Homo sapiens: one gene and its partners. The protein of the gene in region 5 purifies or fractionates together with the protein of the main gene of each other region. This does not show direct contact. Each region holds a gene or a part of one and is shown on either strand. Other genes may lie near its edges.

Region 1 (4,175 bases), on a different chromosome or scaffold from region 5:
ACCCAGGAATTTGAGGCTGCAGTGAGCCGTGATTGCGTCACTGCACTCCAGCCTGGGAAACAGAGCAAGACCCTGTCTCAAAAAAATAAAATAAAATAAAAAAAGTGTAACATGGTTTGTGAATTACATCTCGATATAGCAGTTATTTAAAAAGGGGAGAGTGCTGCGCATGGTGGCCATACCTGTAATTCCATTACTTTGGGAGGGTGAGATGGGTGGATTGCTTTAGCCCAGGAGTTCGAGACCAGCCTGGCAACATAGAGTGACCTCTTCTCGCTTGAGCCCAGAAGGTCGGGGCTGCAGTGAGTCAGGATTGCACCACTGCACTCCCACTTGGATGACAGAGCAAGACCCTACCTAAAAAAAAATAATTCCAGTGTCAAGCAGTCAGGTCTTCACTTCTCTCAACTAACCTTTTTTCTGACATCACAGGTGTGTAGCACCACTTGTTACAGTCTCTTTCCCATTCCCTGCTGCCCCTTCTATATTCTTTTCTTCACATTAATTTGTTTCTTTGAGTACTTTTGATCACGGGTCGCTGAATTGAGATGCTGCATGTGCAGTGCCCGCATGCCATTTTATTTTTTTCCTGGTACATCTTGAGGTAGCTTGAGGACAATACTAAGTTGCCTGTTTTCCTTTCCAGCGGAAGGCAGACAGATTGCTGCCAACATGAGGGGTATTGGGATGATGCCCAATGATATTCCTGAGTGGAAGAAGCATGCCTTTGGGGGCAACAAAGCCTCTTACGGAAAAAAGACCCAGATGTCAATCCTTGAGCAGAGGGAGAGCCTGCCCATCTACAAACTGAAGGAGCAATTGGTCCAGGTGAGAAGACTTTTATGATGTATTGGTGGGGAGTAGGGTTATTGTCTAAAAGAGGGGTGATATTTTTAAACTGAAACTAACGGGACAAGTATGTGCCTACTTGAAGTGGCTCATCCAAAAGAGTTAAGAAAGAAGGATAAAACTTTCTAAATACTTTTTTTTTAAATGGGGCTGGGCGCGGTAGTGGATGCCTATAATCCCAGCACATCAGAGGCCAAGGCAGGAGGATCACTTGAGCCTAGGAGTTTGAAACCAGCCTGAGGCAACATAGGGAATCTTGTCTCTACAAAAAATAAAAAATTTGGTGGGGCGTGGTGGCCCACACCTGTAATCCGGCACTTTGGGAGGCAAAGGTGGGCGGATCACAAGTTCAGGAGTTCGAGACCATCCTGGCCAACACGGTGAAACCTTGTCTCTACTAAAAATACAAAAAATTAGCTGGGCGTGGTGGCGCATGCCTATAATCCCAGCTACTCTGGAGTCTGAGGCAGGAGAATCGCTTGAATCAGGGAGTCGGAGGTTGCAGTGAGTCAAGATCACGCCGCTGCACTCCAGCCTGGCTACAGAGAGAGACTCTGTCTAAAAAAAAAAAAATTACCTGGGTGTGGTGGTCCATGCCTGTAATCCCAGCTACTCGGGAGGCTGAGATAAGAGGATTGCTTGAGCCTGAGAGGTCGCGGCTACAGTGAACTGCAATCACACCACTGCACTCCAGCCTGGGCGACCAAGTGAGACCCCATATCACAAATGTTTGTGTGTGCGTGTACAGACACACATACTTATGTATGTGTCTGTATATCTTCTTTTTCCTGGGGCCCCTAGAACAGTTTCCAAGTGGGCAGAGTATTGTGTTGCATGGACCAACAGCTCTGTTCAGTAATTAAAAATGAGGATACTCAGTCAATAAACTCATATGGGCAACTCATAGAGTGCTTCGGTACTCTATATTCTGGAGTTCTGATTTTAAGACCACCGAGTCTTCCTTGAGGTAATCAGGTTTACTAGTTTCTAGTGAATCCTTTCAACAATATCTTATATGTATACAAGCAAGTACAAATATATGCACACACACGCACACACATTTTATATGAGTACTGTGTGTGTTTACAGGTGGCAGTGATATTATATACACTGTTCTACATCTTTTTCCACTTAATGATATATCTCAGAGATTTGTGTGTGTGTGTGTGTATGTGTGTGTGACAGAGTCTCGCTTTGTGCAGGCTGGAGTACAGTGGCTTGATCTCAGCTCACTGCAACCTCTACCTCCTGGGCTCAAGTGATCTTCCCACCTCAGACTCCCAAGTAGATGGGACTACAAGGCATACACCATCATGCTCAGCTAGTTTTTTGTATTTTTTGTAGAGATGCGGTCTCACTATATTGTCCAGGCTGGTCTTGAACTCCTGGACTCAAGCAATCCTCCCTCCTTGGCCTCCCAAAGTGCTAGGATTACAGGCATGAGCCACTGTGCCTGGCCTTCTTAAACAAACAAACAAAAAAAATTGCCAGGCCAGGCACAGTGGCTCACACCTGTAATCCCAATACTTTGGGAGGCCAAGGCGGGCGGATCACCTGAGGTCAGGAGTTCGAGACCAGCCTGGCCAACATGGTGAAACCCTGTCTCTACTAAAAGTACAAAAATTAGCCGGGCGTGCTGGCGGGCACTTGCAGTCCCAGCTACTTGGGAGGCTGAGGCAGGAGAATCACTTGAATCCGGAAGGTGGAGGTTGCAATGAGCTGAGATCATGCCACTGCACTCCAGCATGGGCGACAGAGTGAGACTTCATCTCAAAAAAAAAAAAAAAGCCTTTTTTTATGGGCTGTATTATTTGGATAGGCTCTGGTTTATTTAACTAGTCCTATATCCATAGAAACATCGTTGATTGTAATCCTTGGCTGTTACAAACAACGTAGAAATAAGAAATAACTTTTGGGGAAAGATATAGAAATTTGGGAGTTACAGTGGGAAGGAACATTTTTTATGTATCTTTTAAATTCATTGTTGACTTCTTTAACTATATGTGTATATTCCTCTTTTCTTTGGTGTTAGAATATAGTAATTATTTTATTCCAGAGTAATGTAGATTTTAATGACCATATTTATATTCTGTTTAATGACCATATTTATATTCTGGCAGATTTTAATGACCATATTTATATTCTGTTGCTTTCAGGCCGTCCATGACAATCAGATCCTGATTGTCATTGGTGAGACAGGATCTGGAAAGACAACACAGATCACCCAGTACCTGGCGGAGGCAGGCTACACTTCCAGGGGCAAGATTGGGTGTACCCAGCCCAGAAGAGTGGCAGCTATGTCGGTGGCCAAAAGAGTGTCAGAGGAGTTTGGTTGTTGCTTAGGCCAAGAGGTAAGTAGATAGTGGAGTCGCTCGAAAAATACCAGAAGCAAAGGCCCAGGTCTCTTAATCTATCAAATGGAAATATTAATAATACTGCCTTTTTTCAGGTTTCTCCTGAGGGAGAGAGGGTTCCCATTGTCATAATCAGTCTGTTCAGAGTATAGTCTAAGACATACCTTACTATGAGGAAATTACTGTACATCTTGATCAGATTCTTAAGATTATGAGTGAGAGTGACTGGGCTGAAATCTTGCCTGGTGATTGGGAAAAGGAGACATTTGTATCCTAGGTTTTCCCCTTCTCTTCTGCTTTAGGTGGGCTACACCATTCGATTTGAGGACTGCACTAGCCCTGAAACAGTCATCAAGTACATGACAGATGGGATGTTGCTTAGAGAGTGCTTGATTGACCCTGACCTCACTCAGTACGCGATCATCATGTTGGACGAGGCACATGAGAGGACAATTCACACTGATGTGCTCTTTGGATTGTTGAAAAAGGTAACTAGATGCTCTTTAATGACCCCTCTACCTGTTGGAAGCTGAATTCTGGCAGTTGGATTTGAGTACCTGTGTCTTTGGGTAGTCCTTTTCAGTAAGCCACATAATATTTCTCTTCAGACAGTTCAGAAACGGCAGGACATGAAGCTGATTGTCACCTCAGCCACCTTGGATGCAGTGAAGTTTTCTCAATACTTCTATGAAGCTCCCATTTTCACCATCCCAGGTCGAACATATCCAGTGGAAATACTGTACACAAAGGAACCTGAGACAGATTATCTGGATGCCAGCCTGATTACTGTTATGCAGATTCATTTAACAGAACCACCAGGTAAGGGGAAAAAGCAATTTTCCTTTTTGGGAGGCCTAATTTTCCCTCTTAGGCCAAAAGTCCTCATATGGGTATCTTTTTTGCTAATCTTTTTAAAAACAACTTCTAAATATTCATCTCTCTGCAAGCCTCAGGCTTGTATGTTTGAAATGA
Region 2 (4,175 bases), on a different chromosome or scaffold from region 5:
ATGGGGATTTGTCATATTGCCCAGGCTGGTCTCAAACTCCTGGACTCAAGTGATCTTCCTGCCTCCACCTCCCAAAATGCTGGGATTATAACAAGCTTGTCCAACCCGCAGACCAAGGCCCAGGACCACTTCAAATGCAGCCCAACACAAATTCGTAAACTTTCCTAAAACATTATGAGATATTTTTTGTGATTTTTTTTTTAAAGCTCATCAGCTATCATTAGTGTTACTGCATATTATGTGTGGCCCAAGACAATTCTTCTTCCATTGTGGCCCAGGGAAGCCAGAAGATTGGACACCCCTGGATAACAGGCATGAGCCACTGTGCCTGGCCGGTAGCCACATTTCAAGGGCTTGAAAGTCACAGGTGGCCCATGGCTACAGTACTAGACAGTGCAGATTAAAGAACACTATCACTGCACAAAGTTCTAGTGAGCAACACTGCTGCTCTAATCTCTAGAGCCAGGTGACAACCAGGAATTGCTGGTTGCCTGGAACCTGCAACTTGACAGCCAGACCTCAGCCCCAAGGGCTGGTCAGCCAGACAGCCAGTCTCCCTGTCTCAGAGCAGCAAGAGACAGCCCAATTCAGGGCAATCGCTCAGGAAAGCTTGGCATGTTTATGCCAAGTTAATCATCACCTTTAGAGAGCCTCCATTTGGCTGCTGAAGAAGAAAGAGGTCAAAGGAGGACAGAGTGGCCTCACACTGCCCTGCCGGACAGCACTGTAAAGAGATGCCAGAGTTTCATCCACACAGCCTTGAACTGTTCACCTACTCACCCAGCCAGGAACTTCTGGATGAGCATCAGGAAATGAGGTTCAAATACAATACAGAAAAGTGTGCCCAGGCTGGCTACCATCCCTGCTGGAAACCCTGGCTCTTGCAAAACTTGGCTACCAGAGTACCCCAGTCCAGCACTTTCAGACTGTACCCCTGCCCCTGTATCACTGCCAAGTGCTTGCTGTCAAACTCCCTGGAGCATCTCCACTCTCACCTCTATGCACCTGAATGTTCCCACCTCTAAAATGCTCCCTGGGAACACTCTCCTTTCCAGCTACCTCGATGACCTTCTCCCACTTCCCCATCCTCCGTGGCTCAGCTCAAGTTCCATGCTGCCTTCCCATGAAGCTTCCTCAGGCTCTGCCTGGCTTTCCCAGAAAATGAACCCCAGCAGTACTGTCTTTCTGCGTGTCAACGGGAACTGGCTGACCTACAAGATGCTGCTTCAGGCAGTGCTGTGTCCTCTACAGAATCCCCTTCCCCCAGGGGGTCTTGCATGGGCTGGAATCCTGGAATCCAGGAGACATTACTTCCCCTCCTCAGCCTTGGACATCCCAGCTCTCCTCAGCCTCTTGCCTTGCTCCTCTCACTAATAAGTGGCATCAGGTGGGCTGACCAGGACGTCTTTGTAAAACTACAGCTGCATGACTACAAGAGAGTTTTGCGCAGAATAATACACGGAAACATTGCAACCCCTAATCTTGTCTCTTTCCATCTGCCACAACCTCAGGACCCTGAATTGTCTTAATATCACTAAATTATGAGTTTATAGTCTGGTGAGAGTTAGGAAGAAAGATAAAACTGTGAGGAAAACCAACTCCATGCCTGAAATTCCTAAGGCCTCCAGCAAAACCATGCCCACAGTAAGAACTCAATGAAGGACCTGCCACTGAGTGCTAGGAAACCAGCAAGATGCCATCCTCATGGGGCAGACAGGTGCTCTCCAAGTGCAGGCAGAGAAGGTGCTCAATCCTGGTGTCTGTTGTCACATCAGAAACCTGAACTAAAAATGTGAAGCCGCTTCCTCTCTGAAGGAGGAGACTCAAGGGGTTTTATCTGGCCACAGCAGGCAGTCATACTTCCTCACCAGACTCCCCACTTAAAAGGTCCAGCAGAAAGGGCCACAGGCTGGAAAATCAACTCAAAGGTTAGACCCTTACCTGTCCTGTCCCCAGGCATTCACCTTAATAAAAAAAATCACTCAAGAACTATAGGGATTAAATATGACACTAAAAATACATGCAACAAAATCAAAAACAGATAAATTGAACTTCATCAAATTTTAAACTCTTTGCGCAGCAAATGAGACTATCCACCAGGTGCGGTGGTTCACACCTGTAATCCCAACACTTTGGGAGGCCAAAGCAGGAGGACTGCCTGAGGCCAGGTGTTTGAGATCAGCTTGGGAAACACAGTGAGACCCCCATCTCTACAAAAAATTAATTTTTAAAAAAATGACACTACTAAGAGAATGAAAAGATAATCCAGAGAATGGGAAAAAATATCACTAATCTCATCTCTAATAATGATTTAATATCCAGAATATATGAACAATTCAATGACAACTCAATAACAAGAAAAAGAGCCCAATTAAAAATATGGGCAAAAGGAATCTGGATACTTCTTCAAAGAAAATATATATACAAGTGGCAAACAAGCATATGAAAGGATGTTCAACATCACTCATCACTGGGGAAATGCAAATCAAAACCACAATGGGATACCACCACTTCACACCCATTAGGAAGGTTATAATTAAAAAAACGAAAAAAGAAGATGGCTGGGCTTGGTGGCTCACACTTGTAATCCTAGCATTTTTGGAGGCCAAGGCAGGAGGATCACTTGAACCCAGGAGTTCAAGACCGGCCTGGGGCAACACAGTGAGACTCCTGACTCCTTTAAAAAAAAAAAAAGAAAGAAAGAAAATAAAATAATAAGTGCTGGGGAGGATGTGGAGAAACTGGAAGCCTTGCACACTGCTGCTGGGAATGTAAATGGTGCAGCCACTACTGAAAACACTATGGTGTTTCCTCAAAAAGCTAAACAGAATTATCATATGATCCAGCTGTTTTCCCTACACATAATTACATTCCTCTCCCTGCTATATAAACCCCTGATTTTAGTTCGTCGAAAAGACAGATTTGAGACTGATCTCCCTTCTCCTCACCTGACATCACCCGAATTTAAAAAAAAAAAAAAGGCCCAGTGTGGTGGCTCACGCCTGTAATCCCAGCACTTTGGGAGGCCGAGGTGGGTGGATCACCTGAGGTCAGGAGTTTGAGACCAGCCTGACCAACATGGTGACACCCTGTCTCTACTAAAATAAAAAATTAGCTGGGCGTGGTGGCATACACCTGTAATCCCAGCTACTGGGGAGGCTAAGGCAGGAGAATCGCTTGAACCCAGGAGGTGGAAGTTGCAGTGAGCTGAGATCGTGCCATCGCACTCCAGCCTGGGCAACAAGAGCGAAGCTCCATCTCAAAAAAAAAAAAAAAAAATTAATCCCAGCTACTCGAGAGGCTGAGACAGGAAAATTGCTTGAACCCAGGAGGCGGAGGCTGCAGTGAGCTGAGATTGCACCATTGCATTCCAGCCTGGGCAACAAGAGCGAAACTCCATCTCAAAAAAAAAAAAACAAGAATTACCATATGATCCAGTAATTCCACTTCTGGCTATCTACCCAAAAGAATTTAAAGCAGATACTCAAACAGGTATCTGTACTCCCATGTTTCTTCTTTTCTTTTTTTTTTTTTTTTTTGAGATGGAGTCTCACTCTGTCGCCCAGGCTGGAGTGCAGTGGCGCATCTCAGCTCACTGCAAGCTCCGCCTCCCAGGTTCACGTCATTCTCCTGCCTCAGCCTCCCAAGTAGCTGGGACTACAGGCGCCCACCACCGCGCTCGGCTAATTTTTTGTATTTTTAATAGAGACAGGTTTTCACTGTGTTAGCCAGAATGGTCTCGATCTCCTGACTTCGTGATCTGCCCACCTCGGCTTCCCAAAGTGCTGGGATTACAGGCGTGAGCCACCGCACCAGGCCTTGTACTCCCATGTTTATAGCAGCGTTATTCACAACAGGCAAAACGTAGAAGCAACCCAACTAAACAAAACATGGTATACACAACGGAATATTATTCAGCCTTTAAAAAAGGACTGAGATTCTGACATATGCTACAACATGGATGAAGTGTGAAGACATGCTAAGTAAAATAAGCCAGTCACAGAAGGACAAATACTGTATGATTTGATTACATGAGGTACCTAGAGTAGTCAAATTCAGAGACAGGAAGTAGAACAGTGATTGCCAGGGGCTGGGGAAAGGGGGAATGGAGAGTTATTGTTTAACGGGTACAGAGTTTGGGATGATGAAAACGTTCTGGACATTGAATTATACAT
Region 3 (4,175 bases), on a different chromosome or scaffold from region 5:
CCACTGTGACTCTCACCCTTAACTCATACCCTTAACCACTGTATAACCTACTTCCTCTTGTGAACTTTTGAAAATAACTTGATTTTTTTTATTTTTTAAAAAAATTTAAATAAATTCAGGATTTTGAATTGTAGTTGATAAAACGAGGCAGTAATTTGTGCCATAGTACCTGGGAGTTTAAACCTAAGGAATTGTTAGGCTAGGCCTAAAATGTATTAGATTAAATTCCCTTGCTTGTGTGATGTCTCAACCCAGCCCTTTCAACAAAGTAGGAAAAGGAATAGGTTTAAAGAACACTGTGGAATCAGGAGATTCACAGAAATTAAGGAAACTCTTAGGAGTCGGGGAAAATAGGCAATACCAAAGGAAAAATGCCGGATTCAGGGATGGTGTGACGTTCTAGAAGAGGTATGGAAGTGTATCTCTCCTTGCCAAGTGCCACCCCAGCTTCTGCGCCCTTCATTTGAAGCCAGGAGATTTCAGTTTCATCTGTCGGAACTCTCCTGACATTATAATTTTTTTTTTTTTTTTTGGGGGAGAAGTCTCGCTGTGTCTCCCATGCTGGAGTGCAGTGGTGTGATCTCGGCTCACTGCAACCTCCACCTCTCGGGTTCAAGCGATTCTCCTGCCTCAGCCTCCTAAGTAGCTGGGATTACAGACGTCTGCCACCACGCCCGGTTAATTTTTGTATTTGTTAGTAGAGCCGGGATTTTGCCATGTTGACCAGGTTTTGTAATGGAATTTAGTGGGAAAAGAGGGCAATCATTATTACATAAGCTTATAAAATATATTGTTTTCTAGGCTATATAAAGCAGTAAAGTCTAGGAATAACAATTTAAATGATTATATTTGAATTATAAGAAGTAAACAATTTATGATATTTAAAAAGTGACATTTTCCCTAAATTTGAACCGACCATCTCCTCTCTTTTTCATTTAAAAAACTTTTTTTTTTTTTTTTTTTAGGTGAAAGACCAAAGAAACCAATCCCTCTTCAGGATCAGACTGTCAGAGATGAAAAAGGAAGGTATAAACGATTCCACGGGGCCTTTAGTGGAGGTTTCTCTGCTGGATACTTCAATACTGTTGGCTCAAAAGAAGGTATCATTTTCCTAATTGTAGCTATTATACCATTAAAGCAAATGATCAAAATATTGATTCTCCCTCACCCTTGCTTTTTTTTTTTTTAATTTTGAGACAAGAGTCTCGCTCTGTCGCCCAGGCTGGAGTGCTGTTGTGTGATCTTGGCTTACTGCAACCTCCGCCTCCTGGATTAAGCGATTCTCCTGCCTCAGCCTTCCAATTAGCTGGGATAACAGGCGCATGCCACTATGCCTGGCTAATTTAAAAAAAAATACTTTTAGTAGAGACAGGAGTTTCACCATGTTGGCCAGGCTGGTCTCAAAGTCTTGACCTTGAGTGATCTGCCCACCTTGGCCTCCAAAAGTGCTGGGATTGCAGGTGTGAGCCACTGCACCCGGCCACCTTTGCTTTTTTTTTTTTTTTTGCGATGGAGTCTTGCACTGTTGCCCAGGCTGGAGGGCAGTGGTGTGATCTTGGCTCACTGCAACCTCCGCCTCCCGGGTTCAAGCGATTCTCCTGCCTCAGCCTCCCAAGTAGGTGGAATTACAGGCGCCTGCCACCATGCCCAGCTAATTTTTTTTGTGTTTATAGAGACAGGGTTTCACTATGTTGGCCAGTGTGGTCTCTAACTCCTGGCCTCAAGTGATCCGCCTGTCTTGGCCTCCCAAAGTGCTGGGATTACAGGTGTGAGCCACTGCGCTCAGCTTTCTCTGAACATACACTGTAACCTCTTGTGTTCTTTGGATATTTGGATGTTTCCAGAGTCAACTTGTATCTTGTTCATTGATTGCAACCTTATGGTTAAAGAGTTTTCTTTCACTTTGTAAAAAAATGCATACCTCCTAATCAGATGATTAAATGATAATAATGACTTTGGTTTTTATTGTGTCTTGCCATTCACGAAATACTCTTAAACAGAGTCTTTCAGTTAATCATTGACTGTCTCTCGTGACTGAGTGAGTGAGGAGGGCAGGTGTCACAGGGATCTTGCAGATGATGCCACCAAGGGTCAGAGAGGTTAAGGAGCCAGCATGGCGTTAGTGCTGAGGGAAGAGTCACCAGGTGCCCTCTTCAGACACTGGGGACCACAGCAAGACTGGCTCCTCAGTGCTCTCTACCTGGGGAAAAGTCAGTTAAATCTTTTATGTTATGTACTTTTATAAATGCCAAGTTGTTTAAAGTATTGTATGTTTTAAGATATATTAATCTAGAAGCATTTTTTTGAACTGGAAGAAATGGCTTTCTATATCTCAGTTATGAATGGAAGATGAACTGATTTTATTATATGTGCTGCCATAGTGAGCACGGAAGATGAACTGATTAATTCACATAGCAATTATCAAGAAAAAGATGGGCTAGATCTTTTATAATTTTTTTTTTTTTTTCCTGAGATGTAGTCTCACTCTGTCGCCCAGGCTGGAGTGCAATGGCATGACCTCGGCTCACTTCAACCTCCGCCTCCTGGGTTCAAGCAATTCTCCTGCCTCAGCCTCCCGAGTAGCTAGGACTACAGGTGCCCGCCACCACACCCGGCTGATTTTTGTATTTTAGTAGAGATGGGGTTTCACCATGTTGTTCAGGCTGGTCTCGAACTCCTGACCTCAAGTGTTCCACCCGCCTCAGCTTCCCCAAGTGCTGGGATTACAGGCGTGAGCCACCATGCCCGGCCTTACCATTTTATTTAATTAATTGATTTATTTTTTGAGACAGGGTCTCACTCTGTCGCCCAGGCTTTAGTGCAGTGGTGCACCTACTGAGAGTAGACCTTCCCCAGATGCCTCAGCTCACAGGGCCCTTGGAGAGAATCAGGAAGGAGGTGCAACCCTCTTAGAGAAAACTAAACAACTTTATGTGCAGAGGTTACAGACATATGTGACCTCCAGAGCATTCCCTGTTTGTGGACGTGGCACATGCTCGGTAACCGTGGTCAGGGAACAAGGCCATTGGTTACAGGATTCCAGTGTCTGTTGAAACTGGGGGACTGGCAGAGCCGCTGCCCTTGGACCTGCCAGGTTGAGTCTTTGGTCAGGGTACTGTGAATGTTGCCTGGATTCCTTCTGTTACTCTCTCTTTATCCACTCTGACTGATTAAAACACCTTGACATCATATCTTTACACTTGATCTTAGCCAAAAGGCCTAGAAGCGATGACATCATTTCTTTAGATATGTTAATATGCCAGTGGAGGTTGCTGGTCTCACGTCCTGCATTTTAAGGTGACCTTGCATCTGTCAGCTCAGATCTGCTTGTGTTCATTTCACAGTTTAACTTTCAATGTGTAATTCTATATCTCTTGGTTTCACTTTCTTATGGGGAAACCTTAATGTATCCACTAAGTTTTACATCAGGGGATACAGGGATTAATAAGAAATTTATGTGGAATAATTACGTCTATATAAGCACTGAGATGGGAAGTAGCTAAGAGTTTATAGTTATTGGGAATTTCAAGTCCATACATGTTATTTAATCATTTACTCATAGACCCAAATACTCTCTAGGATTGTAAAGTTCTAAACTCTTTTTTTTTCAGGATGGACACCCTCTACCTTTGTGTCTTCACGACAGAACAGAGCAGACAAATCTGTTCTTGGTCCTGAAGATTTTATGGATGAAGAGGTGCGTGTGCAAAACTTTAATTGCCAATTAGCTGGTGGGACAGGTCTAGTTGGTTGCTGTAACTGCCTTCTCTCTCCCCAGAAGGTCCAATGTACGATTTCCTCTTTGTTTGTAAGGCTTTATCTTTTAGGTATTTGATGTGCAGTGTCCTGTACATCAGTAGAGTCTTGTTCATTGGAGGAGCATTTTATACTGGGGCCAATTTCTAAAATCAAGAGTGTAAGGGGAAAGTCATATACAGGCAATTTACTTGAAAAGCCTCGTGGCTGGGTGCGGTGGCTCACGCCTGTAATCCCAGCACTTTGGGAGGCCGAGACAGGCGGATCACGAGGTCAGGAGATCAAGACCATCCTGGCTAACACGGTGAAACCCCGTCTCTACTAAACAAAATACAAAAAATTAGCCGGGTGTGGTGGCGGGTGCCTGTAGTCCCAGCTACTCGGGAGGCTGAGGCAGGAGAATGGCGTGAACCCAGGAG
Region 4 (4,175 bases), on a different chromosome or scaffold from region 5:
TTTACTTTTCTTTTTTTTTTTTTTTTTTTTGAGATGGAGACTTGCTCTGTTGCCCAGGCTGGAGTGCAATCTTGGCTCACTGCAACCTCTGCCTCCCAGGTTTAAGTGATTCTTCTGCCTCACCATCCCACGTAGCTGGGATTACAGGCGCACACCACCATGCCCAGCTAATTTTTTTGTATTTTTAGTAGAAACAGGGTTTCACCATGTTGGCCAGGCTGGTCTTAAACTCCTGACCTCAAATGATCCATCCTCCTCAGCTTCCCAAAGTGCTGGGATTATAGGCGTGAGTCGCTGTGCCCAGCCTATGCTATTTTCTTTTTTTCTTTTTTTTTTTTTTTGAGATGGAGTCTCACTCTGTCACCCAGGCTGAAATGCAGTGGCACGATCTTGGCTCACTGCAACCTCCCAAAGTGATGGGATTACAGGCATGAGCGACTACACCCGGCCAGATCGTTGCTTTTGTCTGTAATGCAGCCACTAGAAACAAACCCCAAACTGGGACCACTCTCAGGTTTATATCTTTTTGTTTGTTTGTTTTCTAGAAGTGGATAGATTCATGCATGAAGTTTGGAATGCATTGAGTAATTCAACATTAATCAAGTAACTATTATGTGCCATTGGCACTGGGGGAGCACTTTGATTGTTTAGGACCATCTTCAGCATTGTACAATGTTTAGCATAAGTGGCACTACCTATAAATCCCAGTAGCGTCCCCATCCTACCCCCATTGTCTTAACTAGAAACACCTCACACATTTACAAAGGCACTGGGAGAGAGGAGTTAGAGGTGGCAGTGATGCCCTGTTTGACAATCACTGATTTTCCTGTTTTAGAAGAAATAGAAATGGACTGCATAATATATAAAATAGGATTTAAAAAATTTGTTATTCCAGAGACTGAACAGGTTATTGGATTTATGAATTTGGACTAAGATTTCTGATTTGCTTCCGAGAGGTCTGGTATTCTTCAGAAACGAGGGAGTTCTCACTGAAATATTAATAGTGAATGAGTAAGAATGGAAAATACTAGGTGTTAGGTATAAGAGGTGAGAAGAATCAGTGAGGATTCTAAGACGTAATATTCTAGGACAAGTCTAAGGCAATTCTCTACATGTGAAGTAAGTACTGTGTATACGACTTATTAGTCATACAAAATTGGGGATGAAAAAGTTTTTTTTAGTGTAAATCTTGATACAACCAAATGCTTTTTTTTTCCTAATTATGAAAGTGATAAATCTTTTTTTTTTTTTGAAACGGAGTTTTGCTCTTGTTGCCCAGGCTGGGGTGCAATGGCACGATCTCAGCTCACCGCAACCTCTGCCTCCCGGGTTCAAGTGATTCTCCTGCCTCAGCCTCCTGAGTAGCTGGGATTACAGGCATGTGCCACCACGCCTGACTAATTTTGTATTTTTGGTAGAGACAGTGTTTCTCCGTGTTGGTCAGGCTAGTCTCCAACTCCCAACCTCAGGTGATCCACCCACCTCGGCCTCCTAAAGTGCTGGGATTACAGGCATGAGCCACCACACCCAGCCAAGTGATAAATCTTGAAATAAAGGGCTTGGTGTATGTATTTTTCCCTCTGAAATAGTTATGTAAGAAATACTACATACAGGCCAAGTGCATTGGCTCATGCCTGTAATCCCAGCACTTTGGGAAGGTTGAGGTGGGAGGATCATTTGAGGCCAGGAGTTTGAGACTAGCCTGGGCAATATAATGAAACCCTATCTCTTAAAGAAACGAAATGTTACACACGTACTATACCCAAAAGAATGCCTTCAACGTATTACCCCTAAAAAACCGTAACAACTTTAAACTGACCCCATGATAAATTATATGTTATCTTGTTTGTATGATTTCACACACTAGCTAAGCTAGATTAGCGTTTTCTTTCTACCTCACATAGTGAATGTTTTGACAGGCTTATCCTTTTAGTCAGTCTAGTTCTTTGCCAGTTTTCTGTAATAAAATATCTGTTTCACAGATGAGTTACTACTTTATCTTGTTGACAAAGCTTATTTGTGCTTCTGATACTTTCAAGAGTATATTGTATTTTTCAGAAAACGCTCCCCAGCCCATTTGCCTCCTGGTACTCAGTTTCCTCAGCACATTTAATTCTCAGACTATAAAAATTTGGGGTTTTGGCCAGGTGCTGTGGCTCACGCCTGTAATCCCAGCACTTTGGGAGGCCGAGGCGGGTGGATCGCCTGAGGTCAGGAGATCGAGACCAGCCTGGCCAACATGGTGAAACCCCATCTCTAATAAAAATACAAAAATTAGCTGGACGTGGTGTCATGCGCCTGTAATCCCAGCAACTTGGGAGGGAGGCTGAGGCAGGAGAATGGTTTTAACCCGGGAGGCGGAGGTTGCTATGAGCTGAGATCACGCCATTGCACTCCAGCTTGGGCAACAAGAGCAAGACTTCGTCTCAAAAAAAAAAAAATGGGGGGTTTTATAATTAATTACTATGGAGGAATCTTGCTCTTCAGATGTCCTTCACTCAGCCTTGTGAGATACTAGAATCTTATTGATGCTCATTTGAAGGGTTATTAACTTTGGAATGCCCAAATAAGGAGCAGCAAATGACTCTTGTATGCTAAATTAGTATTGACACTTTATGTTGAACATACATGACTACCAGGGAGCCATTTACTTAGAATCCTTTCCTTATAACCGTTGCTATGGAGAAGTGATAAACTCCTCATGATTAACTCTTCATAGAATTGGTATTTTTTTCTTGTGTTGTTATATAATTTTCAGCTTAGGGTTGTATAGGTTTTTCCATGCTGAGAGGAAATAAGACTTTTGAGGTCAGATAGTAGCTGTATGATCTTAATGTACTGAACCTCACTCTTTTCAGTAGAGTGAGCTTTATGGTCCCTTCCAAAATCAACACTCTTAGAGTATGGTGACACTAATAACTCACATATCAGTAGTACGTGTTTTGTGCTAAATCATCTTAGGCTTTCTTACCTGATCCCTCTTCTCACTCCTGAGAAAAACAAGCTGGAGATTTTAGTGTATAGCCATGAGATAGTTTTTTCTGGGAAATCAGTAGCTTATAGAAAGTTCTGTACGGCCTAAAATATAAACTTATTTATTTATTCATTCATCCATCCATTCTTTAAAATAGAGATAGGTCTTGCCATGTTGCCCTGGCTGGTCTCGAATTCCTGGGCTCAAGCTATCCTCCAACCTTGGCCTTCCAAAATGCTGTGATTACAGGCGTGAGTCACTGTTCATGGCCTATAAACACCTTTAGCATGTAACAGAATATCTCTAAAATTCATTTATTTATTCATTTGTACAAAAAATATTGATCAAATATCTCCAGTCATTATTATAAAGCACAGGAGACACTTTTTTTTTTTTTTTTTTTTTTGGAGACAGTTTCACTCTTGTTGCTCAGGCTGGAGTGCAATGGCATGATCTCGGCTCACTGTCACCTCCGTCTCCTGGGTTCAAGCGATTCTCCTGCCTCAGCGTCTCATGTAGCTGAGATTACAGGCACCCACCACCATGCCTGGTTAATTTTTCTGTTTTTGGGAGAGACGGGGTTTCACCATGTTGGTCAGGCTGGTCTTGAAATCCTGACCTCAGGTGATCCACCCACCTCGGCCTCCCAAAGTGCTGGGATTACAGGCGTGAGCCACCGTGCCCTCCCCGTTTTTATTGTTTTAATACGGGAGACAGATAATAACCATGTAAAGTAGATAATTTCATGCTGTGAACAGTCTTGATCACAGTAAACAGTGCTATGGAGCAAATGATTGGGTGGGGAGGGGTTACTACTAAGGCAATCAGAAGAAGCCTCGATAATGGAGGACCTTTGATCTGAGACACACAGATTGAGAGCTTACTTGAAGAATGATAAACAGAACTCTGTAAAGGCCTAGAATTGGGGAAAAGTATGTTATGTTCAAGAAACAGAAGATGAGCTAGTGTGACTGAAGCATAATGAGTGAGAGAGTGAGAGTTGTAAGGGGAGATTGAAGGCATAGGCAAAGTCAGGTCAAGTTGCATAAGCCATAAAGTGGCTCACACTTTTTTGCTCTGTTTGGAGTAGAAAATTAGAAATAGCATGCATTTCCTTTAAACTTTTTTAATGAATGATGTATGATAGACTTATTAATATAAGACTTTGGCTTGTAGTGGTAAACAGTTCTACAAAAAAAAA
Region 5 (4,175 bases):
GATGAGATAACACCCCCGTGTGTGAGGCTCAGGTTAGCCAGTGCTGAGACCTCCTGTCGCTGGGCATCCAGCTGGGTGCTACGGCCATGGCTCCTGCCTCCTGCAGCCCTATCAGGGCCCAAGGCCTTCCCCGTCAGCACTTGCTCCAGCCTACGCACTGGAGTTGTGTTCTGGGTGGGTGTGTAGAATACTCGCACTCCTACTTAGGGCGTCAGGGAGCTCTCTCTAACTAGCAATTTCTTCTGCACCTAGGGAGAGCCCATTGCTAAAAAGGCCCGCTCAAATCCTCAGGTGTACATGGACATCAAGATTGGGAACAAGCCGGCTGGCCGCATCCAGATGCTCCTGCGTTCTGATGTCGTGCCCATGACAGCAGGTGAGCAGGACGCTGTGGTCAGAACGGCGGGACGCTGGTGGCTGAGCAGTGAGCCTTTCCCAGGTTCTTACTGCTTCACTTCTTGTGTCCTTGATATTGCTTCTGACCTAAGTTGATTTGAGGCATCTCAGATCCTGGGATCTAGTAACAGATAAGTCAGAGCAGGTGTTTTTGAAGCTTTATAAGTGCTGGCTTACTGTTTTTTAATCGTTTTTTAAAAATACAAGTAAATAATGTATTCTTTTTTTTAAAGAATAGCATATACATATATTCCAATAATATTTAAGACAATAAATTGAAAATTCATTTTCCCCTCTCTACATCCAGTCCTCAATTCTAGAAGTAACTAGTGCTTTTATTGAGTATTCTTTGTAATTTATTAAATATTGACTTCTATTCTCTTTTTAATCTAAATTTTATTATCTAGACATATAAAGAGTCAATTCAGTTTCACAAAGCTTGTTTTGAAAAAACAGTCGTCCCCTGGTGCTGTCCCTGTGCCCTGCTGCCAACACCATTTGCTGCTCCTCAGAGGAGCGGATTTCAACTCTTAGGTGTTTTGGTTTTTATTTCCATGTTGATAACAGTTTTATATTTCTACTTCCTGTTTTCCATTTTAAACATTATCTTCTGATTTTCTACTTCAGAGAACAAAGAATTAGTTTTTTAAAATCCCCTTCCCTGCCCCCTCATCTTCCCTGTATAGGTACCATAATTTTGGTTAGGTCCTAAGTTATTTTAACAATGTAAGCATCATGTGATAACCTCCTTTCATGCACAGCATTTTGTTTTGCCTGGAATTGATAATTGCCTTGTTTTTGCATAGTTTTCTGTGTAATCATTCCTGATTTTCTCCCAGACCATCCTGCTGGGGGTTTTGCATCCAGGTGTCTGCATCTTGTTAAGGGGAGATGAGGGCAAGGCTGAATTCCTCAACATTCAGTATATAAACTTTCACATAATCTCCATTTGTCATTATGGTACCTCAGCCCTCACTATGCGTAGGATGTCCTAGTCCAGAGACCCTCTGCTTTAACCTACCAAAGACTAGACCCCCAGCTGGCTACCAGGTTGGGGAGGGGTGGCCCCCAGCTGCAGAGTCAGGGAAAGGATCCCAAAGATTAACCACTTTCTTAAATGGGCTTTCAGCCAAACTTACTGTCTCCAGGATTACCTGCACCCTTTCCTCTGAGCTTTTGGAGTGCAAATTGAGTTGCTTCTTGGCTTTTACCAGCTTAAGATTCAGCTTTCTCGGGTCTGCTATATCATTTAGGACTCATCTATTTTGTTTTCTAACTTCAGAAATTTTGTTGCTGTTGTCTCTTCCTCCCTGCTTTTTAAGTTTATTTTTTGGCTATTTTAGCCACTTTAAAGTGTTTGTTAGCAGTAATTACTCTGTTCGAAATTTTTGAATCATCCTAAACAAAACCACTTATTAAAGGTACCTATTAAATAATAACTCCCCATTTTCTCCTCCCCTTAGCTTCTGATAACCTCTAATCTTTGTGTCTATGAATTGGCCTATCCTAGATTTTTCATGTAAGTGGAATCATACAATAGCTGTCCTTTTCCACGCCTTGTTGATTTTGCATAGCATAATGCTTTCAAGGTTCATCCTTGTACCATGTATCAGTGCCTCATTCCTTTTTGTGGCTGAATAATATTCCGTTGTATTTGGATAAATATCTTGTTCATTCATTTGTTGATGGGCACTTGCACATTGTTTTCACCTTTTGACTATTGTAAATGCCTGTGTGAATATCCACATGTAAGTATATGTTTAAATTCCTGTTTTCAATTCTTTTGGATATATATGCCTAGGAATGGAAATGCTTAGTCATATGGTAACTCTGTATTTAACTTTTTGAGGAAATGCCAAACTATTTTCCACAGTGGCTGGACCATTTTACATTTCTACCAGCAATGTATGAGTGTTTCAGTTTTTCCACATCTTCTCTTTTTTTTTTTTTTTTTTTTTTTTTGAGACAGAGTCTCGCACTGTTGCCCGGGCTGGAGTACAGTGGCGTGATATTGGCTCACTGCAACCTCCGCCTCCCAGGTTCAAGTGATTCTTGTGCCTCAGCCTCCCGAGTAGCTGGGATTACAGGCGTCTGCCACCATGCCCAGCCAATTTTTTGTATTTTTAGTAGAGACGAGGTTTCACCATGTTGGTTGGCCAGGCTGGTCTCAAACTCCTGACCTCATGATTCGCCTGCCTCGGCCTCCCATAGTGCTGGGATTACAGGCGTGAGCCACCATGCCTGGCCCACATCTTCTCTTAACAGGTGTGACATGGCATCTCATTGTGGTTTTTATTTTTATTCCCTACTGACTAATGATGTTGAACATCTTTTCATGTGCTTGTTGACCATTTGTATATCTTCTTTGGAGAAACATCTTTTCAAATCTTTGGCTTATTTATTAACTGGATTGTTTGTTTTGTTTTTTTTAAGAGACAGGGTCTTGCTCTGACTCCCAGGCTGGAGTGCAGTGGTGAGAACATGGCTTACTGTAGCTTTGAACCCTTGACCTCCAGTGATCCTCCTGCCTTGACCTCCCAAAGCACTGGGATTACACCGTGCCTGGCCATTTTGTTGTTGAATTATAGGAGTTCATTATATATTCTGGATATTAAACCCATGTTAAATATGATTTGCAAATAAGCATTCTCCTGTTCTGTGGGTTGCTTTGCCCTCTATTGGTACGGTTCTTTGATGCACGTCTTAAATTTTGATAAAATCTAATTATTTTTTTCTTTCACCTCTGCTTTTGGTGTGACATTTAAGAAACCATCACCAAATCCAGAGTCATGAAGATTTGCCCCTATGTTTTCTTCTAAGATCCTTTGGTTTTTCTTTTAAAAAATCAGTTTCCTACCAATTTAGTGTGGTTTTAAAAGGGAACAGAGCTCGAACATGTATATTCAATCCCCCTTCAACAGAATCTCCTATAGTCCTGGCCAGGTGTGGTGGTTTACACCTGTAATCCCAGCACTTTGGGAGGCCAAGGTGGGCGGATCATCTGAGGTAGGAGTTCTAGACCAGCTTGGCCAACATAGTGAAACCCCATCTCTACTAAAAATACAAAATTAGCCAGGTGTATGGTACATGCCTGTAGTCCCAGCTACTCAAGAGGCTGAGGCAGGGGAATGACTTGAACCCAAGAGGTGGAAGTTGCAGTGAACTGAGATTGTGCCATTGCACTGCAGCATGGGCAACAAGAGTGAAACTCCGTCTCAAGGAAAAAGAATCCCTTATAGTCCTTACAAGGTTAGTATCACAAAGGTTTATAATGAGTATCTCTTATTTTAAAACAAAAATATGAACACTAAACCAAAGTTTTTTCGAGGTTTTTTATTTTGTCCTATTTTTTAACCCCAGCGCTTTTTCCTTTCTCAATTCCAGAGAATTTCCGCTGCCTGTGCACTCATGAAAAGGGCTTTGGCTTTAAGGGAAGCAGCTTCCACCGCATCATCCCCCAGTTCATGTGCCAGGGCGGTGATTTCACAAACCACAATGGCACTGGGGGCAAGTCCATCTATGGGAAGAAGTTCGATGATGAAAACTTTATCCTCAAGCATACGGGACCAGGTAGGAGCCAGTTGGCATGTGGTGACGAGGGAGGCTGGGCAAGGGTGGGATGGCCAGGCAGGATGGAAGGACAGGTTGTAGTTCTGGCTGGCGGACACTAAGAGTCTGGAGGAGACCCAGCCACCAGACATAGGAGAACCATGCAGCCTTGCTAGGGTGGAGTTGGCTTGTTGACATTCAGGTACTGTTCATCCCCCAACCGTGTCCAC
Region 6 (4,175 bases), on a different chromosome or scaffold from region 5:
TAATAATGACATAGGATTCTATTTGACCTAACAGCCAAGTTTTAAAGGATGGCACGCATCCAAGTATGATGAATTATGTAGAGGAGGGAGAGCTTTGCGATGATAAAACTCTTGTGGTTTAAATTGTTGGTTTTTAAAGAGACTGGCATTTGATAAATTTGTGTTATTTTTGGCTTGTATTATGCTTGGCTAGATGAGACTTCTGGGCAGATAGTAATGGAAATTACCTCTTCCAAAGAGATAAAGTGGAGAAGAAACTCCTGTAAGTTTATAACCTGCCCTTGGTAGCCTGTCTCCATTAAACCCTATCTAAGTGAGCTAGACAACCCCCAGGGGTTGGCAGACTTTCGCTGTAAGAGGCTGGATGGTGAATATTTTAGGCATTGTGGGCCACATGCAGTCTCTGTCACGTATTCTTGTTTTAAACTTTCTTGGCTCATGGGCCTTGAGAGCTATGGTTTGCCAACCTCTTATCTAGGGTTTAGGGTCTTTAAAGAACCTATTAGAACCCCCTTTCCTCCATGGGAAAAAACCCTGAGATGTTTGAGAACCTTTATTTACTCATTATTTTTCTTTCCTTCTCTCAATCAGCAGCACCCACAGTAGGACAAGATATGGGGTGGAGACCTGCGGGTAGTTAGGCAGATAACCTTGGGGCCCACCTGCCTAGTGGTGTGTCAGTGAAAGTTAATCCATTTTCAGTCTCCTGGGTACATCTTTTTTAACTCCCACTTTCATTTTTCTCTGCCTGTTTCCCTTCAGAAATCATTTCTACCAGTTCGGAGAGATCCGGACGATCACTGTTGTGCAGAGACAGCAGTGTGCTTTCATCCAGTTTGCCACACGGCAGGCTGCAGAAGTGGCTGCTGAGAAGTCCTTTAATAAGTTGATTGTAAATGGCCGCAGACTGAATGTGAAATGGGGAAGGTGAGAATTAAACTATTTTTAAGTGACATTTTGCTTAGATTTTTAAGAAACTATTTCATTTTCTGGAGACTAGTAGGCTTTTGGTTAACAGGCTTAAATGAACAGGATCTTTAAAGAGATCTTTCAAAGATCACTCTCTATGTGATACTTGATTCCTGTGGATGTTGGGAGAACCCTGCTTTGGAAATGTATTCAGGGGGTTGGTGTATAATCTACTCCTTTGAAGGTTCATGTTTTTGTGACTAGCTATTATAGGCCAAGTATAATGCCAGGCCATGAAAGGTGAATTTTAGGGTTTATAAATGAATTAGACCTAGATTCTGCCCTTAGAGGCTGATTGTCCAGTGGAGAAGATAAAACAGGGAAGAATCGCTATTTTAAGTTTAAAAGTGATGATTGCATAAGAGAGACACAGGTGAAAGACCCAGTTCAAAGGGGGAACATGTCTCCAACTTGGAACCAGGGAAGTGATGGCTAATAGCAGCATCTGCCTTTGTGGAGCGCTCCCTATGTGGTAAGCACTGTGCTAAACACGTATGTGTTGCCTTTTCTGGTCCTTATGATAGTTCTAGCAGCTTTTGAACCCAGGTCTTTTCTGGTGTCAAAACCTTTGCTCTTGTTCACTGTGCACAGTGGCATTTATGGGAAAAGAGTGTGTGCTGAGGAGGAGGTAGAGCGAAGGAACTCCATTGGACTGGGGAATGTAAGAAGCAGAGGTGTGAGATAAGGTGGGCCAGAGTGCCGACTGTATGCATGTGTGTTTCCCAGATCCCAGGCAGCCAGAGGAAAAGAAAAAGAGAAAGATGGAACTACAGACTCTGGGATCAAACTAGAACCTGTTCCAGGATTGCCAGGAGGTGAGTGCAGACTCCCTGCTGACTTCAGAAGCTCTTTCTGCCCTGATGTTCCTATTTTGGAAGATGGGACCCAGGTCTGGTTCATGTTGCCGCTCTACTCTCCCAGTAGGACCTCTGAGAATGTAAAGGTGGTAGAAACAGCGTTGCACAATTGTTCTCCCCTCTATGTGTTGACTATTTTCTCTCCTCCAGCTCTTCCTCCTCCTCCTGCAGCAGAAGAAGAAGCCTCTGCCAACTACTTCAACTTGCCCCCAAGTGGTCCTCCAGCTGTGGTGAACATTGCTCTGCCACCGCCCCCTGGCATTGCTCCACCCCCACCCCCAGGTAACTTCCATCTTCCTTCTTAGCCCAGAGAAATCCTTGTGAAAGTTCTGTCTCATAAACCTCACCATCATGTTCAACACATCCAAATCCTGTGAGTTTGCTCTGTAGAAGTCTACCAGTAAAGTTGATCTGTTGGGATTTCTGAAATTTTTCTTTCTCCTGCTCTGCCGAGGAGAAGAAAGGGGCCAGTTTTCTAAAGATCCGCGTATATGTGTCAGCAGAGTAAGATTATTAGATTACAAAGATCTATCACCAATTTGTTCCCTTTTCTAAACTAAATGCTAATGGATGCCCTAGAGCACTATTGCCCAGTGTGGGCTGTGAGCGGGTGTCATTTTACAAAGTGTTTATCACCTGTCTGCCACAAGATCAGGAGCTTGTGCCAAAATGTAATCAGTGAACCCCTTCCTTCATTGAGAAAGTCTTGTTACCAAAAAAACTGTCAGATGAACTAAACTGTGCCTGGTCGTATAATTTACATTTTGACTCAAGCTCTTTGTCTTGAGTGGCCAGAAATAGGTGGAGGACTGGCACTTCGTATAGCACTGCTGTAGACAGTGTTAACAGTGGAAGGAAATCACAGGTAGCCAGTTCTCCTGTGGCAGAGAGCCCATACTCTGAAGAGAATCTGGTTTCTGAGCACCCTCCATTCTGGTGTCAAGCATTGAGGTTAATGATGACACAGTCTTTGCCATCAGCCTGATTTCTTTCTTATCTCCCAAATCCTGACTGAATCCTGTCTGGTAGGATTTGGCATGTTGGATACATAGCAGAGACTCAGATGACATACTAGGCGATACCTTGAGTGCTGTGGAGTTTTTTGGACTGTGGGGGAAAGGTTTCTAAAACCAAGGAAATAACAAGTGGAAGTAAGTTTGTGAACTGACATTTGCTTAAGCCCCGTGTCAACCTTGATTTATGTGTAGGTGGTTTTAACCTTAGCAAGATTGAGAGGTTTGAAAGGTTATCAAGGAAACTACCAGCCTAACACATTTGTTCTCTCGTATCTGCAGGTTTTGGGCCACACATGTTCCACCCAATGGGACCACCCCCTCCTTTCATGCGGGCTCCAGGACCAATCCACTATCCTTCTCAGGACCCTCAGAGGATGGGAGCTCATGCTGGAAAACACAGCAGCCCCTAGCACCTTGTCACCACTCTGGGGCTCTGTGGAAGAAAGGGCACTTAAAACTCCCAGTAAATCTTGGAATAAATATATTTTTCCTTCCCTTGTAGTTTCCATGGTAGCTGAATGTGCTCAGATGTGAGCAGTCAGAGACTGACAGCCATGCTTTCCTATACTTGTTCAAAGGATCGATGGACCGTAAATAAGCTGCCATTAACACATCTGGTTACTGCTGTAACATGACTAATAAAACCGAACGCCTGTTCCCCTTACCCGTGTGGGGGACACGCAGATGAGTGAATTGGAATGTCCAGCAGAGTTACCCTCCCAATTATATGTTCATTTTGTATATTTTTTGGTCGGGGGAAAAATTGACCTGCAGTAAAAAAACCTTTGACCATTTTTATGTCCATTGGATACTTTCCTTTTTATCATCTTAAAAAAAGATAACTAGTACTAATCATTGTAGTGGCCTAAGTGTGATTTAACTCTTGAAGTCACACCCTCCGAAAGATGAGTAGAAACCAGCACCAGCACAGCCCAGATCTTCTCTTTCCTCTCCTTTTCCTCATTTATTCCTAAAGGAATCTGACCATTTTACGTCTCTACGGCCCAAAAAAAGACAAAAATAAAAATTCCTTTTTATTCCTGTCAACTGGATGGAAACACAAATTTCATGGAGCTGTGTACCATCGAAGAAACCTGGTGTCTGGCATGAAATTACTGTAAAGAACTTCCTGTAAAACACGTTCTTTAACAAACTGAAATGAAAAGCATTGGAGCGTCTGAATGAAAGACGTGACCTCCTGCTGGGACTCTGATGGTCTTCAGCATTCACCTTCGTGTGTCTTCAGTGTCTCATTGTCATCCCTGCTTCTGTTTGGTCTTAGAGTGTTTGGATATAACTGAATTGTAGATGGTAAAGGAAATTTGATGTGTTT
Region 7 (4,132 bases), on a different chromosome or scaffold from region 5:
TTTGGCGAGTTCACAGGTAATAATGTGCTCGTGGCCCCTTAACTCTGTCATCCTCGTGCCCTGCCACAGGTATCACAGCAATTTTTTCTCACCCAGCGATGGAGGTCAGAAATCTGAGGATCTTTTCAACAAACCACAGATTCAGATGCAGAACACTGGTGTTTTTCCTAGCTGCTTTCCTTAGTGGATGATGGCACACATTCTATCTTGGGAACCAAAAGGAATTACATTTTCCTGCCAGGAGGAGTGTTCAAGTAAATGAGATGGGGAGGCAGGCTCTGTGGTTCTGGTATATTTTCCAGGGGGCAGCCGGGAAGGTGGATGCTTGGGTAGTGTGAAATAGTGCAAAAAGCACTAGGCTAGGACTTGGGAGACTTGGTTAGTTACACAGAAGGCACGTGATACAGCAGAAAGACACTGGACTGGTTGAAAAAACCACCTGAGTCTGTCTCGATCCTGCCCTGGCCATTCCATGAGATGACCCTGGGCCAGCCACCTAATTCTTCATGACTCTGATTTGTTATCTGTAAAATCAGGGAAGTGGAAAGGGTGATGGCTGAGGGTCTTCTCAGCAGTCTCTGATTCTAAGTCCGGTGGGAATTAGGTGTCTGGGCCCCCAAGGTGCGTAGTTTTAATAGCTTATTTTGGTCTGCCCATCAATCTGACACACCAGATACCATTGAAGGCACACAGGCCTATCCCAGTGTGCTCATGGGGGTTCCCTCTTATGTGGTTTATTAATGTGTTCAGAAAACGGGGTAACTTATTGAATAGAGATGCATGCAGTGTTTCTCAAGGGGAGTCAGGTTGGGAATTGTTTTAAGTAGATGTTAGATGGGGTGCTTATTTTGTTCCACGTAAATGCGTATAGCCAATAAAAGTTCATAGATCGATGTACTTTAAACTTTTTGTCAGCTGAGTTCCAAGGAACCATGTACCACTGATACCTGCTGCTTGCTCTTTTCTGGCATCAGGGTGACTCCAAATCTTCTAGCAGCACATTCCCAGGAAGCAGGCTATCACTATCTATAGTGCCAGAGCTTTTAGAGCTAACAATCAGTCCCCGCACTTTGAGCTTTTTGACCATTGTGAATGGCTCAGTAACTCCTGCTCGTGCTCCCTGGGAAGGCATGTATTAATGGCTTTCTCTTCTCCATCCACAGGCTTTGTGGACATGTGTGTGCAGCATATCCCTTCTCCAAAGGTGGGCGCCAAGCCCAAGATTGAGCACACCTACACCGGTGGTGTGGACTCCGACCTCGGCGAGGCTATGAGTGACTGTGACCCTGATGTAAGGGCATGTGGCTCCCCGGTTCTCTGGTCTTTTTTTCCCCTTCCTGTGTGGGGATACTGATTTCTGGTCACAGGAGTAATGCCCACTTTCCCACCCTTGCCTCCCCATCCCCATGAGCACAGTCAGGCCTGAATGCAAAGCCTGATGTTGCCACCGCTAGTGCTATGACCTTGGGAACATTACTCACATTTCCTGAGCCTCAAGGCCTTGGTCTATAACACGAGCATAATAAAATGTGAGCGGTTGTTATGAGATTTAAATAAGATTAAGGAAGTGTTACGGTTGTGTTCAGCATGTTGCCTGGCAGATACTAAAGATTCAACAAATGGTAGCTAATCTTGTCAGTCCTGGCTTTTAAAAACATCTTTCCCAGCCATTTCTTAGGCTGTCTAGTTTCTTATCATAAATACACAGCCAGTTGAGAATTGAGTTACATCTTAAGAGGAAATTTGGGACAGTAAGTAATCTTGCCAATAGTGCCTCTCTGCTATCTTAAATCTGTGTCTCTTCCTCAATGCCCTTATCCTCCCAAAAAAAAAAAAAGAGGAGAATATTTTTGCTCTGCCATGTCTCCTATTCATCCTTCTCAGAGGGATGGGGTAGAACATGGTTTGGAGATGAGACTACCTCATCTTTCTCTAGCTCCTCATAGAGCTCATGTCCTTGCTGTCAAGGAAGATGGCGGGGAGTAGTACTTCCCCGGAGCATAGATGTGGTTGAAGCTGCACCCTGTCCCCTCTTCCAGGGCCCCCTGATGTGCCACACTACTAAGATGTACAGCACAGATGATGGAGTCCAGTTTCACGCCTTTGGCCGGGTGCTGAGTGGCACCATTCATGCTGGGCAGCCTGTGAAGGTACTGGGGGAGAACTACACCCTGGAGGATGAGGAAGACTCCCAGATATGCACCGTGGGCCGCCTTTGGATCTCTGTGGCCAGGTACTGCCAACCAGAGCCCCAGGAGTATGCCTTGGTGTCTATCCAGGGGCTGCCCCCAAGGAGCTGGAAGGAGTGATCCTCCTTGGAAGTAGTTGCAAGGCTCTGTGCAAGAGGGGATAAAGTGGCTCTCCCTCCGCAGGGCTATTGACTTCAAGTTCTTCCTGTCCCAGGTTTGCTGGGGCCAAAGGCAGCTACTGTTGGAACAGTGCCAGAAGCTTCGCCTTTGCACTTTGGGTGGCTCGTGTGAACTTTTTTTTTTAGCCCTATTTGTTTGTTTTGAGACAGGGTCTCACTCTGTCTCCTAGGCCAGAGTGCAGTGGCACAATCTCAGCTCACTGCGACCTCCGCCTCCTGGGCTCAAGCAGTCCTTCCACCTCAGCCTCCTGAGTAGCTGGAACTACAAGCACACACCACTATGTCTGGCTAATTTTTAAATTTTTTGTAGAGACAATGTCTCACTATATTGCCCAGGCTGGTCTCCAACTCCTGGGCTCAAGTGATCCTCCCACCTCAGCCTCTCAAAAGTGTTGGATTACAGGTGTGAGCCACCACACACCATCTTAAAGCCCTTTTGAAAGCATGAAGCTTGTATGAACTTTTGTAGGAGGATTTCCATTGTTACTCATCTTAATCCTCTTTTCATTTCCTCTCCTGTGTTCCTTAAGTCATAATCTTTGTGTTTCTTCCCAAAAGAAATTGTTCCCCAACTCCACTGTCTACTCTTTGACCAAGAGAGAAGGCTTCGCTGGATCCCTTGTAGCATCCCAATCTGCAGTCAAACTTAGCTTGGGCCTCTGGGCTACTTGTCAGTTTATGAATTTGGTTTCCCAGTTGACAAGTTAAACCAAAGCATTCGTGTTCCCTAAGGTGGCTACCCTGCCTCAATGGTGGTCCCTTTTGTTAAATCCACCCTAAATGCCAAAAGGTGGAATATTGAAGAGCTGGGAAAGTGGAAGTTTTCTGTGATGCTTTTTTTTTTGAGATGGAGTCTCACTCTGTCGCCCAACCTGGAGTGCAGTGCCTGTGATCTCGGCTTACTGCAAGCTCCACCTCCTGGGTTCATGCCATTCTGCTGCCTCAGCCTCCCAAGTAGCTGGGACTACAGGCGCCCGCCACCATGCCCAGCTAATTTTTTTGTATTTTTAGTAGAGACAGGTTTCACCGTATTAGCCAGAATGGTCTCGATCTCCTGACCTCATGATCCACCTGCCTCAGCCTCCCAAAGTGCTGGGATTATAGGTGTGAGCCACCGCTCCCAGCCTTTTTTTTTTTTTTTTTTTCTCTCTGTCAGCCAGGCTGGAGTGCAATGGCGTGATTGCGGCTCACTGCAACCTCTGCCTCCCGGGTTCAAGCGATTCTCCTGCCTCAGCCTCCCAAGTAGCCAGGGTTATAGGTGTGCACCACCATGTCTGGCTAATTTTTTGTATTTTTAGTAGAGATAGTTTTCACCATGTTGGCCAGGCTGGTCTCAAACTCCTGACCTCAGGTGATCCAGCCACCCACCTCAGCCTCCCAAAGCACTGGGATTATAAGCGTGAGCCGCCACACCCGGCCTTCTTTGATGCTTTTGCTAGCCCCTTACAGTCGACACCTTGGGCAGCTTTTTACCATGAGCCTGCAATTGGAATAAGATTTTCCTCTTATGTCCTCACAGAAATACCTTGTACTTTTCTTTCATAATGCCCATCAGTTTGTAACCACATACATGTGTGGATAATGATTGTTTACTGTATCTCTCCCCTGCTAGAATGTATCTGTTTTGCTCACCCCTGCTCTTGGCACGCAGCAAGTACTCAGTAAATTTTTGTGGAATAGGCTGGATGTGGTGGCTCACACCTGTAATCCTAGCACTTTGGAAGGCTGAGGCAGGAGGATTGCTTGAGCTCAGGAGTTCAAGAC

The links.
Region 1: the proteins of PPIE (region 5) and DHX8 purify together in Homo sapiens (affinity purification with mass spectrometry; 4 studies listed by BioGRID and IntAct, with this or other methods). This does not show direct contact.
Region 2: the proteins of PPIE (region 5) and CCDC12 purify together in Homo sapiens (affinity purification with mass spectrometry; 3 studies listed by BioGRID and IntAct, with this or other methods). This does not show direct contact.
Region 3: the proteins of PPIE (region 5) and GPATCH1 purify together in Homo sapiens (affinity purification with mass spectrometry; 3 studies listed by BioGRID and IntAct, with this or other methods). This does not show direct contact.
Region 4: the proteins of PPIE (region 5) and SNW1 purify together in Homo sapiens (affinity purification with mass spectrometry; 4 studies listed by BioGRID and IntAct, with this or other methods). This does not show direct contact.
Region 6: the proteins of PPIE (region 5) and RBM22 purify together in Homo sapiens (affinity purification with mass spectrometry; 4 studies listed by BioGRID and IntAct, with this or other methods). This does not show direct contact.
Region 7: the proteins of PPIE (region 5) and EFTUD2 purify together in Homo sapiens (affinity purification with mass spectrometry; 3 studies listed by BioGRID and IntAct, with this or other methods). This does not show direct contact.

What each region holds. Positions count from the first base shown.
Region 1 is NC_000017.11:43,503,998-43,508,172, forward strand, and holds part of DHX8 (ATP-dependent RNA helicase DHX8), read left to right. Parts: intron 1-646; coding exon 647-828; intron 829-3,005; coding exon 3,006-3,200; intron 3,201-3,505; coding exon 3,506-3,691; intron 3,692-3,811; coding exon 3,812-4,022; intron 4,023-4,175.
Region 2 is NC_000003.12:46,970,093-46,974,267, forward strand, and holds part of CCDC12 (coiled-coil domain-containing protein 12), read right to left. Parts: intron 1-4,175.
Region 3 is NC_000019.10:33,087,169-33,091,343, forward strand, and holds part of GPATCH1 (G patch domain-containing protein 1), read left to right. Parts: intron 1-965; coding exon 966-1,100; intron 1,101-3,611; coding exon 3,612-3,697; intron 3,698-4,175.
Region 4 is NC_000014.9:77,740,302-77,744,476, reverse strand, and holds part of SNW1 (SNW domain-containing protein 1), read left to right. Parts: intron 1-4,175. UniProt on the Homo sapiens protein: Involved in pre-mRNA splicing as component of the spliceosome. As a component of the minor spliceosome, involved in the splicing of U12-type introns in pre-mRNAs.
Region 5 is NC_000001.11:39,745,123-39,749,297, forward strand, and holds part of PPIE (peptidyl-prolyl cis-trans isomerase E), read left to right. Parts: intron 1-252; coding exon 253-376; intron 377-3,780; coding exon 3,781-3,966; intron 3,967-4,175. UniProt on the Homo sapiens protein: Involved in pre-mRNA splicing as component of the spliceosome. Combines RNA-binding and PPIase activities.
Region 6 is NC_000005.10:150,690,828-150,695,002, reverse strand, and holds part of RBM22 (pre-mRNA-splicing factor RBM22), read left to right. Parts: intron 1-762; coding exon 763-927; intron 928-1,695; coding exon 1,696-1,784; intron 1,785-1,976; coding exon 1,977-2,108; intron 2,109-3,121; coding exon 3,122-3,252; 3' UTR 3,253-4,175. UniProt on the Homo sapiens protein: Required for pre-mRNA splicing as component of the activated spliceosome. Involved in the first step of pre-mRNA splicing.
Region 7 is NC_000017.11:44,860,814-44,864,945, reverse strand, and holds part of EFTUD2 (116 kDa U5 small nuclear ribonucleoprotein component), read left to right. Parts: coding exon 1-16; intron 17-1,163; coding exon 1,164-1,291; intron 1,292-2,039; coding exon 2,040-2,233; intron 2,234-4,132. UniProt on the Homo sapiens protein: Required for pre-mRNA splicing as component of the spliceosome, including pre-catalytic, catalytic and post-catalytic spliceosomal complexes. Component of the U5 snRNP and the U4/U6-U5 tri-snRNP complex, a building block of the spliceosome.